2 linked regions of the Homo sapiens genome follow. The protein of the gene in region 2 interacts with the protein of the main gene of each other region in a pairwise test. Each region holds a gene or a part of one and is shown on either strand. Other genes may lie near its edges. The genes, in order: C3orf52 and NSG2.

Region 1 (7,532 bases), on a different chromosome or scaffold from region 2:
CCCTCCTTTGCCACTGTACAACACACTAGAACATACCACACTATTATAAAACGATCTTTTTAGTCACTTCCTGTACTTGGACTGTGAGACCCCTGAAGGCACAGACAATGTGGCCCTGGCACTTGGCATGCTGTCTAGCACATCACAGACCCTCAATGAATACTATAGGTTGAATTAAATGTAGGACCTAAGGGAGTAAAAAGAACAGTGTCCTCCAGCATTTATGCAGCTGGAGGCCAGGAATCTTCCCTCTGGCTTTGCACTACAGTAAAGATATTTACTTATTTTTTTAACAAAGTTTTATTTTAGGCTCAGGAGAATACATGTGCATGTTTCTTCTATAGGTAAACTCGTGTCATGGCGGTTTGTTGTACAGATTATTTTGTCACCCAGGTACTAAGCCTAGTACCCAATAGTTACTTTTTTTCCTGCTCCTCTCCCTCTTCCCACCCTCCGCCCTTAAGTAGGCCCCAGTGTCTGTTCCTCTCTTCGTGTCCATGTGTTCTCATCATTTAGCTCCCACTTGTAAGTGAGAACATGTGGTATTTGGTCATAAAATATATTTATAAGCATCATTTTCTGCTAAAATCCAGACAAAGAATCCAAAATTGAAGCTACTTACTCTATAGCTCTATGCCAATTATTCTAGCAAAATTCATATTCTAATGTCAAGAACTCCTTAGGCAATATATAAGATGGAATTACCCTTTCGGTGAGCAGGTGAGGCAATTCCTCTTCAGCAACACACTCCTCTGGAATCTTCAGCATGATGAAGAATGTTTTGTTTGATGATAATTCAAGTATTTCATTTTCATCTTCATCAACATAAGTTACTAAAGAAAGTAGGGGAGGTGGAAATGAAAAACAAAAGTAAACACCTGCATATAATAATAAACTTATTTATTCCATTGACTGCCATACTTAAACATAACTATGAGCATCAAGGGTAAAGGCTGAACACAGCAAGCAAGTGTAAGCAGAAATGCTTTCTCCACTCAGCAAAATTGAGTAAAATACAGGGGTTTGCCTCTATCAAAATAAAAAGTTTGTTTTATGGCAAAGGGGTCTCAGATTCCACTGAATACAGACTGGGGAAAGGGCCCAAGGGAGTAGGAAGAATATGAACTTCCTTATTAGACTAAACCTGCAGCTTAGCTAGGTACACAGGTGTCAAGGCAGGTACTGGGAGACGGTGGGGGTGGCTAAACTACACTCAGAGCCCCAGGGTGTGCAGGAATTGTTCAGGTCAATGAATTAGCATGTATTAGGGTCAAGGTATATTTATAGACTCAGATTCCGAAATCATTTACATTTTATAAATGGGAAAACAGACCCAGAGGGTTGACGAGTTTGCCTAAAACAATGAGTGATGAAGGACAGGAAGTGGGAGCAAGTAACTGCATTGACTCACCTCCCAATTCTGTGCTGGCAAAGACCACCATGAAGAAGTGACATCATCGACTCAAACAACAGAGGTGACTAGAAAATGAGCATGCGAGTCCATGTCTTGAAGTCTCCCCAGGAAGACAGAGGATGAGCATGAAGTCATCACTCTAGACTATGTCTCACAGGACAGGTATGTTGACATGCTCTGCTTGCAGAAGGGAAGCTAAACTATATTCAGAGCCCCAGGGTGTGCAGGAATTACATTCCTGGGACAATTAGTTATGTATTGCTGCTTGTGTTTAATGACTGCCATCTAATTGATTTTTAAGTAGTTGGAACTAAAGGAAAATCACACAAAGTGAGGAGCCAGGCGCCAGAAGCTAGCACTACTGTGCTAATTATGCTCCCCTGGCTCCACAACAGCCTCACCAGCTGGTCCCACACAGGAGACTACCTCTCTGGCCCTGAGAAAGGCGTAGGTGGGAGGAACCAGGTGCTTATATTGCCATAGACTTTAAGACCATAGTGGAATAAATTCAGTGTTTGAGATGGAAGGACAGGTAAAAAGGAGGAAGATTCCTGGTATTCCGGTTACTTATTCTGTGATGACATCTGGAAATACGAGGCATTACGAGCAAGGAATGTGCAGAAAAGAGTTAATATAGCAGGCCTGAGATTGCTAGCATAAGAAAGGCCTCCTCAAAATTGGTCCTGGCTGGTGTCTGAGAACCTGGATTTTCCCCTGATGAGAGGGGCTCACTGTGCCTCAACTGTTTGTACAATGTGGCTAACATCTCCTTTCCTTCTGGGAGTCTGGATTTTTAGTGCATAGTAGGCAGAGGCTACGTATATGACCAAGCCCCAGTGAAAACCCCGGGTACTGAATCTCCAATAAGCTTCCCTAGTAGATGAGATCTCACATGTGTTGTCACAGCCTATCGCTGGAGGAATTAAACAAGTCTGGTGCAACTCCACTGAGAGAGGACACTTGAAAGCTTGCTCCTGGTTTTCTCTGGATTTTGCTGTAATTAATCATTTGATGTAATGTATCCTTTTGCTGTAATAGATCATAGTGATCAGTAGGACTGCATGCTGAGTCCTGTGTATCCTCCTAGCAAATTGTTGAATCTAGGAGTAATCTTGGGGACCCCCAAACGTAGGGAATTATCCCTGCGTCCTTAATTGTTATAAGTCATGACATTATGTTGTATGATTTAAAAAAAAAGTTACGCCTTCATAGCAAAAAATTTTGCAAAGTGCAGGAAATTGTAACAAAGCAAAGAAAAAAATACGAATAATCTTGCAATCAAGAGGGTTTTTTCCTCCTATACTTGATATTATATATTTAAGGTCCTAACAAATAGGTAATTTATATCCTGCTTTTTGTTGTTTGCTGCCATTATTGCTTACTTATCCTGATTGTTCTGTTGTAAACATATCAAAAGCCATTTCCCATGTGCTTAAAATTCCTTGCAAAGATTATTTCAATGGCTTCATAATGTTCATAATAGGCTCACCTATTTTCTTAAATATGACATTTATCATTTTTAGCTTTCTACTTCTATAAATAATATTTCAATGGGTATCTTTGAGCTCTATACCCACCATGTAGATTTCCATAATAGATATCAATGCCTCAGAAAACAATAGGGGATGCCAAGAGGATAGATACAAGGTTCAAATAACTGCTAAACTCAAGGACACTGAGAAGAGATGCCAAGTGTGAAAACAGGCCTCCCATAATAGCTCTGACACATATTTAATGTGTATCATTCAAATCATGAATCTGTACCAAGACCTATCTAAATAGTTGTGTGTGTCAAAATAATAACAATAGTAACAACGACAGGCTTACTCAGTCAGGAGAGTTTTTATGTCACTAATGAGATAATCTGGGCTATACTTATTCGTGTAGAAAAAACATATTTTTAAAAATCACAAAAACATGTGTTGTATGTTGAAGGAACATGAAAACAGTTCTTTGGCTAGAATATAAGAAATTAAGCTAGAGAGAGAGCCCTTAAACGCCAGATACCTTCAAGGGGTAATGGAGTGTTGTTAAACATCGCCCACGAAGAAAGTAGAGGCTGGTGTTTAATGGAGGTTAATCGGGTGGTCATGGATGGGATAAATGAAACGAGGAGAGATGAGGCAGAGAGGCCAACAGGCACAAGTTTGGAACAGACTGATTTGACTGACAGCAGAAGGAACAAAAAGAAAAAATTAATGAGAAAGCCCAGGATAGTAGAAACAGAGCTGGCTTTAAAGGCAGCCAGACTCAGTCTGAACTCCTGTTGGCTATTTGTTAGCCAGGTGACCTTGAGCAAGTCACTTAAATCTCTGAAGCTACTTCTCCAACAGAAATATCAACACCTACAATGTAGGTGATAGTAAAGATGAAAACCAACATGCATAAAGTATCCTGCATGGTGCCTTGTAGTAAGTGGGAAAGTTGCTATCAAGACACTACCAAGGAATAACTGGTAAGATTTGGCCATTATCTAGATATGAGAAAGAAGAAATCAAAAAGGTTTCCAAGATATCAAGCCCAGGAACAGGAAGAATAATAGCTACTGTATTAAGTATGACGTGCAAACATTCTACTATGCACCTTATGAATATATTTTCCTCACATAATCCTCACATTAACCCAATGAGTTAAATATTGTTGTTTTCATTTTTAAATGAAGACACTGAGGCTTAGAGAAAATGCATAATTTGTTCAGGTCAATGAATTAGCATGTATTAGGGTCAAGGTATATTTATAGACTCAGATTCCGAAATCCTTTACATTTTATAAATGGGAAAACAGGCCCAGAGGCTTGACAAGTTTGCCTAAAGTTACACAATTGGATAGTAGCAGAACTAAAATAAACTTGGTCTTATATAAAGGGTGAGTGAATGGGGAAAAGATGAACAAATTGGGATGAAGGATATGTTATGGTCTGAATGTTTGTGTCTCCCCGAAAAATGCATATGTTGAAATCTAACCACCAATGTGAGCGTGTATTAGTCCATTCTCACACTGCTATAAAGAACTACCTGAGACTGGGCAATTTATGAAGAAAAGAGGTTTAATTGTCTTACAGTTCTGCGGGCTTAACAGGAAGCAAGGATGGGAGCCCTCAGGAAACTTACAATTATAGCAGAAGGCTCAGGGGAAACAAGCATGTCTTACCATGGGGGAGCAGGAGAGAGAGAGAAAGAGCAAACAACAAAGAGCCACACACTTTTAAACCATCAGATCTCATGAGAATTCACACACTATCATGAGAATAGCAAAGGGGAAATCTACCCCCATGATCCAATCACCTCCCACCAGGCCCCTCTTATCATTCAACATGAGATTTGGGCAGGGACACAAATCCAAACAATATCAGATGGTCTTAGAGGGTGGGGCCTTTGGGAGGTGATTAGATCATGAGGGGAGAGCACTTTTGAATGGTATTAGTGCCCTTATAAAAGAGGCCCAGAAAGCTGCCTTTCCCCTTATACCATAGAAGATATAGCTAGAAGGCATGATCTACGAAATAAAAAGTGTGCCCTCACCAGACAGCAAATGTGTGCTGACACTTTGATCTTGGAGTTCCCAGCCTCCAGAACTGTAAGCAATAAATTTCTGTTATGTATAAGCTACCTAGTTTATGATATTCTGTTATAGTAGCCCAAGCAGACTAAAATAGCATACAAACAAATGGTAGTTTCACATGTATAATAATTGAGATGATGACAGTTATTTTTAGATAAATATCTCTAGCCAAGAGTACTTCCAAAACTCAGGAAAATTGTACAGATGTAGATCTAGGAGTCACCTTCTTGGAGGCATGGCTGCTGTCCTGGGAGTGAATGAGCTCTCCAAGAAAAAGAATGAAGAATGTGAAAAGTCACGAAGCTGAAGAGAAGCCTCATGAACCCACAATGCAGATGCCAAGAGCAAAAATAGCAAAATCAACCTAAAGTCCAGGAGTTCTATAGACTCAGAAGAGTATAATGAAGTTGGCAGAGCTAAAAGCTGACAATAAGGCAGGAGACAGAGAAATGTTGGCTTCCACGATCAGACAATTGCTAGTAATCTTGGGAAGAAAAATTGGGAACCAATAGATACAAGAGGTTTGGGAGTCTGCAGGAGGCAAGATTCAAATGCAGACCTTTCTTTCTGGAAGTGTGCCAGTGAAAGAAGGGAGAGAAAAACACATATCTAAATGAAGTAGCAAGAATCCTGATGGAAGATTGCTTTGAAGGAGAGAGGATGCTAGTGCATTTGAAGAGTTAACCCATTTATACCTGAGGTTGAACTTTTCGAATTTTTGCATTCAGACTTTGGTGATGACCTTGAGCAGTAAGATATAAATAACTTCTACATGATTAGCATTCCAATAATGGAACACTAGGCATAAATTAAGAAGAACCTGAGGATGCTTAGAGAGAGGAGGAGATATCTGAAGATCTCTGGGTCAGAGGAAGCTGAAAGATATTATATGGAGACCACAGGTAAGGGTGTCCATCTTGGTAGAGAAACATCAGCGATTTGAAGAAAAGATAAACAGGTGAAAATGGAAAGAAATTTCAAGGTACTGGGTCTAGCACTGCTCTCATGTTCCTGCCCCAAAGGACCTTGGCAGCTTATAGCTTGTTAATGCTGTCTGCCTAGGATTTTCCCATGAGTCACCCTACACCAGGGAGCATTACCCTGTGAAAACTGTCAGTCTGCCAGAACCACATGACATCATAAAATGTAGCTCTTATTCACAACTGAAAGGCAAACAAATCCACTCAACACAACGTCACTTAGGAAGTCGTTGCTTATATCTCAGTACCACAGCGTTCCTACTCATAAAAGGTGTATAAATTAAGAGATTAGGGTCAGGCAAGAATCTGGGGTATAATGTTGGGGGATATCACATGAGGGTCTCCAGGATGTTATCAATTTAAATCATGTTTCTAAGCATCCACCTACTTGTCACAGTTTTGTTTTTGAAATATTTAAAATATTTTGCCCCAACCAAAACTTCATTAGTAAAGTGTTATTCAGGGTCTCACCTCTCCATGACTAGGGTGAATTATTGAAGAAAGGAGAACCCTTGAGAACACTCAACTGATCCTCCAAATTATCCAGAAAGAAAATGACTTTGAGAAAAAGATGAAGGCTTTTGTTTCTGTACCTTTCAAATCAAGAAATTTATAATTCCTTATGAGGAAGGAAAGAATCCATTAATACCTTTTCCCTAAAGAGTCTCAAATAACAGAATTCCCTGGGTTCCACTCATAAAAATGGACATTAAAAAAATTTCCATGTCGATTGTGAGTCTGGTGGACAGGTAGCCTCTTTTCCCTAGCACATACAAAGCCCCTACTCAGTGCTTTAAGCTAAGCCATGATCCTGAATTTGTCATTCTTCAATGGCATACAAGGGAAGAGTAGTGGGCAAGCCCAACCCATGTACAGGCAATGAAGGCTGCACAGTCTGTAGAGAATGAGCAGCAATAATAAAACCTACTACAAGTTGGTCTGCTTTTATTATCACCACATGCTGACAATTCTTAATTCGAGTGAAAAAATATAACTCCCCACTGGACACCCTGCCCTGGGTACCCAGGTGTCCCCTCCCCAACTTTCTGTTCTGAGATGCTTTCACTGTCCCATTTTATGTCCACCCCAACTGCACAGTTTTGAAGGCTAAAGAAATTCCGTCTTAGTTATTATTTCACTGTATTAACTTCTGATTAATCCCAGCTCTGGAAATGCCTCTAAGATTTCTATTTCATCTACTGTTGCATGTATAAGAGCACATACTTACCATAAATCTCACCCTCAGGTCTAAACAACCTTAACGTTATCTACATGCCATAAATCTTGCCCTTATGCAATTATAAAACACATCCCTTCTGAAGCATGCATACCCTTTTTCTGTGGTATTTAAGCCCTGGGCCTTTGGGGTAATGGTGCAGGAATGCACCATCTCCTCTCACTGCTGCCCAACGCATGGCTTCTGTTCCTAAAACCCTGTTAAATGTTTCTTTCTGAGTAACTGGATTTGTCAGTTTTTCTTTAGCCTCTCAGCTTCCTCAGCCTTTCTGGGTAGTTTTGCAAAGACCTGCCTACTGAAGAACAAAAGTTAACACTTCCGCCTCCAAGCTTCAGTCTGA
Region 2 (4,974 bases):
AGAGGTGTGAAGGTAGGGCTGGTGCCTCTGAGGTTCTTTGAAGCTCTGTCTCCAAGTCTCCCCTTGACCCACACTCTGATTAAACTCCTTCTCTGAAAGAACGGAACCTGCTGCATGACCTCTGGGAGTTTTCTTGCCCCTCTGAACCTCGTTTTCTTGCCTGCAAAATGGGGGCTCATAATGCCTTTTCCCAGGATTTTTGGGAGGCCTTAAGGAGAGAATTTAAGTAAAATCAGTTAACAAAGGGCCTATTAGATAATGAACTCTCAACAAATGTTAGTTGCAATAAAGACAGAGTCTGTTTCAGAGTGAACACAGCTGATAATATTTATAATTACCATTTGCTGAGTATCTCTAATACATCAGACCCTTTGCTAGATGTTTCCTTAAACATTATCTCAATTGAGCTGTACAACCATTCTGAGAAATAGGGTTTCTTTGGCTCCCATTTCACATATGAGGAATTAAATGTAGAGAGTGTTTAGTTAAGAAGGTTGTCCAAGACATCACAATAATTATGTTTTGATGTGGGGAGATCAAATAGGAAGTGTGCCAGCCTGAAAATGTGTATACTTCGGTTCTGCACTGCCTAGATTACACTCCAATCTGACCGCCTCTAGCTGGTTGACTCACCTATCACCTGGTTGCCTCTCTGGGCCACTGCTCACAGCCAATGACTGTTTATTTCCTCCATTATATACTTGCATCTCTTTTCTCTTATATCAAAAGTCTTGGCTCCTAACAACGTTCACGTAATGATGTATTTGCCTTATCCTACAATATACATAGAACAGTCACAAAATAGCACCAATGTTACTACTAAGAGGTAATGAACCTGGAGACTACTGAACGAACGTGGAGGTTTCTCCGCAACTCCATGTGTCCTTAGAATACACTCCACCAAGGGTATAATCTGACTTCCTAGACTTCCATGGAGGGGGTTCAGATCTGCCTTCCTAGATTACACTCCAAGTGGTCAGAAGCTGAGGTTCTGAGACCATCCTGACCAACGTGGAGAAACCCCGTCTCTACTAAAAATACAAAATTAGCCAGGCGTGGTGGCTCATGCCTGTAATCCCAGCTACTTGGGAGGCTGAGGCAGGAGAATCACTTTAACCTGGGAAGTGGAGGTTGTAGTGAGCCGAGGCCGCGCCATTGCACTCCAGCCTGGGGGGACAGAGCGAGACTCTGTCTCAAAAAAAAAGAAGCTGAGGTTCTGGAAGACTCAAAACAATGGGAACAGTAGGGGACAGTTGAATAAACTGTGACACATCCACCCAGTGGACGTCACTACAACTGGGAAAATGAGGAAGGCAGGCCTCCATACACGGAAAGAGAATGCTCATTAAGACAGTAAGGATGAGTGATGGAAGGAAGGTCCTGCCTATGTGTGGGCAAAGGGGAGGAGAGTGCTATTTGCTTATTGTTTTGGAAAGAAATTCAGGAAGGATACATTTTAAAAATTAATAAAAATGGTTCATCAGGAGGAAGGGATGGACGCAAGGCTTCTTCGGATCTATCTTCTTAAATATTTGTCCTTGAAATATGTAAATGTTTGACATATTTAAAAATAAATACATGAGAAAAAACAAGAGGTTCGTTGTTTAAAGAACCTAGCTCTATATCAAGTTAAGGACATAAACGTGCAAAGAAAATAAATATTTCAACCGGTTGTAGATGACAGCATGTTCGCCTCACACCTTTGGTGGAGTGTATTCTAGGGACACATGGAGTTGCAGAGAAACCTCCAAGTTCGTCCGGTAGTCCCCAGGTTCATTGCCTCTTAGTAGTCATATTGGTGCTATTTTGTGACTGTTCTATGTTTATTGTAGGATAATGCAAATACATCATTACATGAATGTTGTTAGGAATGAAGCCTTTTTTTTTTTTTTTTTTTTTTTTTTTTTGCGACGGAGTCTCACTCTGTCGCCCACGCTGGAGTGCAGTGGTGCCATCTCGGCTCACTGCAATCTCTGCCTCCTGGGTTCAAGCGATTCTTCTGCCTCAGCCTCCTGAGTAGCTGGGATTACAGGTGTGCACCACCATGCCCAGCTATTTTTTGTATTTTTAGTAGAGATGGGGTTTCACTCTGTTGGTCAGGCTGGTGTTGAACTCCTGACCTCATGATCTGCCTGCCTCAGCCTCCCAAAGTGCTGGAATTACAGGCGTGAGCCACCGCATCCGGCAAGACTTTTGATATAAGAGAAAAGAGATGCAAGTATAAAATACAGGAAATAAATAGTCATTGGCTGTGAACAACAGCCCAGAGAGGCAACAAGGGGACAGGTGAATCAGCCAGATAGAGGGAGTCTGTGGGGGTCTCTACAGCATCCACTACAGCCGGACAGTCAGTATGCAGAGAAGGCTGGCCTTGAATCAGTGTCAATATCAGGTTCAGGTCGTCTGGCTTCTTCTAAGTGGAGCTTTGCTGTTTGTGCTGGTGCTGGTGTTGGGAAGGCTGCTGCGTGCCAGGCCCAGGTCAGGAGCTGTCACCTGCCCTCTGGCTGACAGCCCGATGCAGCTGCACTCCAGTCAGGGTGGCTGTGTTGCTGGGCAGGTTGGGAGCAGTTTGCTGAATGACCCCTGACTCTGTCTCTTTCTTCCCCAGCACAAACGCTGTATCCCAGCCTCCCTGGATGCTTACTACTCCTCCCAGGACCCCAATTCCAGAAGCCGCTTCTACACAGTCATCAGCCACTACAGCGTGGCCAAGCAGAGCACTGCCCGGGCCATCGGGCCGTGGCTGTCAGCAGCCGCTGTCATCCATGAGCCCAAGCCGCCCAAGACCCAGGGCCACTAGAGGCCTGCCCCAGCCAGAATGGGGGGCGGGGTGGAGAGGAGGACCCCCATTGGCTAAGCCAAGCTCCAGTTACAAGACAACACTGTACTCCTGGGATATGGGGGCGGGGGCGGGGCAGGGCAGGGTGGGGGGAAGAACGCACCAAAAACGTGGTGTGTGCTGGAGTTGTCTGAACCGATATTTCTTTTTGTTCCTTGGTATTGTTGATTCGTCGCCGAGTCAGGCTCATGTACAAAGGCATGTTTCGTGTTGATTGTTCCCATGTAAGATATTTTTAAAGCCACTGCTTATTCTTTGTTAGGAAAATGTAACAGCAGAAAAGGAAAGAAACAAAGAACATGAACAAAAAGCATTAAACTGGCTCCATCAGAAGACGTTGAAGGGCAGTGAAGAGCACAGACTCTGTGGGCTTCTTAGATAAGAAAACGTAGCTTCAGTGGGGGCTCCAGGGTTGCAGAGTATGAGTGACACAGACCGGGACTATTCCATTAGCCTGTGGTCTGCAGGGTAGGCCCGCAGGAAATGAGGAATGGCCGAGCTGGAGAGAAGAGCTGATTTTGGCATTACTAAGCCCAGAACGCACATAACCCATAGTGAAATGTGCTGGCCTCTGGTGCATTTTGCAAGATGAGCACAAACTTTCTGGGCCTCCATCCTAGGACCTGGGCAGACCCACATGGCCTGGGCTCTGAATGCCCACCCTGCGACGGTGGGTTCTGCATCAGCAAACGCTGAGGAGTGGGCAGATTTTCTTTGTCTTTTGCTTGCATTTTCTAGATCCACACCTGGATACTGCCCATGTTGACGAGACAGCAGCAGGGGGAGAGGGAGGGAAGGAAGGTGCGGCTGCAAGAAGGAAGGCACGGGACAGGCATGTGACACTAGGCCACAAGCGATAAGCACAGGCACCTGACTTTTAAGTTTTTGTTTGTTTGTTGTTTCCCAAAGTGCTGATAACAATAACAACAACAATAGGATTCCAACCAGGAGCCTCAAGTGACAGCCAGGAAGAGACCTGAAGGTTGGGGCCACCACAATGCCAAATCGTTTCTAAAGGAAGCTGAAAAATGGGACTGTCTTTTGCCCACTTCGTTGTGTTAAAAGGGGACATTTGTCCAAACTCCCCAACCGAGTTCTAGAAGCTCCTGACAAGGAGGCAGCATCCAGCCTTGACCAGGCCTCCCAGTTCCCTGGAACCGTATCAGGCATTCGCCTGCCTCTCACAAATGTTTCAGGGAGGCCAGTTCTGCAGGGTGTCAGCTCCAGGACCCACAGGGCCAGAACCAGCTGGGAGAATTGGTTATTTGAGATGTGGTACTGCTTCCTCACAAGTCTCCCACAGGCCATGTAAAGGGTATTTTTTTGTGGCTTGCTGTGTTGCTGAGATCATCGTATGCAACAGCTGGGTAATAAGACTAGCATAGCTCAAACTATCCTGCCAAACGCTCTCATCTGATTTTTCCTCCCTTCTCCCCCAACCTCCAATCACCCTGAGTCACCTGTAAATTCATTTGTCATTCAAAGCGGAATAACAAGTTGTCCCTAGCAAAACCGCTGAGCGCTTTATAATTTTGTGGTGTATTTTTGTCAGTAGGTAGCAGAGGCGGAAGTATTTTTTGGTGTAATTCTTGAAATTTTCTGACAGGAAACAAATAAAGATAGATGTGTCTGAGAGTCTTGACCTTCCTTTGCAATGTTCTTTATCTCCTGCTCAGTGAGCCTGATGGGGAAGATGCTGGGGGTGGGGGTCCCGGAGGGCAGGGTGAGCCCTACAGTGTCCTGTTGGGCTGGGGCTAGAATTGGACTGTAGGGGAATGTCCATCCTCAGGCAACTGGGGCCTGAGATGGTGTTGTGGTCCTAAGGAAGGACCAAGAGGTGTACCTGGCTGCTTATCTGCCAGCTCAATGTCCTTCATGCAGCAGATGCCTACTGGGCAGCTTCTAGGGCCAGGCTGTGCTGGGCATGGGGGATACAGAAACGGATGACAGAGAATCATTGCCCTGAGGTCTGGCGATGGAGTCAGATATGAAAATAAAGGTGTGATAATGCCTTTGACTTAATGCAACTGGTGATTAGCTGCAACTGAGGAGGAAGATGTTGAGGACCCCTTTTTAAATTGCTAATTTAGGACTTAGCATGACCTTGGCAGGTAGGGGTCATTGACCCCATTAGA

What was found.
Region 1: the proteins of NSG2 (region 2) and C3orf52 interact in binary tests that used the Homo sapiens proteins (3 or more experiments, as listed by UniProt).

Annotation. Positions count from the first base shown.
Region 1 is NC_000003.12:112,096,139-112,103,670, reverse strand, and holds part of C3orf52 (TPA-induced transmembrane protein), read right to left. Parts: intron 834-7,532; coding exon 706-833; intron 1-705. UniProt on the Homo sapiens protein: Has a role in LIPH-mediated synthesis of 2-acyl lysophosphatidic acid (LPA). LPA is a bioactive lipid mediator involved in different biological processes, and necessary to promote hair formation and growth.
Region 2 is NC_000005.10:174,104,706-174,109,679, forward strand, and holds the end of NSG2 (neuronal vesicle trafficking-associated protein 2), read left to right. Parts: intron 1-2,608; coding exon 2,609-2,800; 3' UTR 2,801-4,474; downstream 4,475-4,974.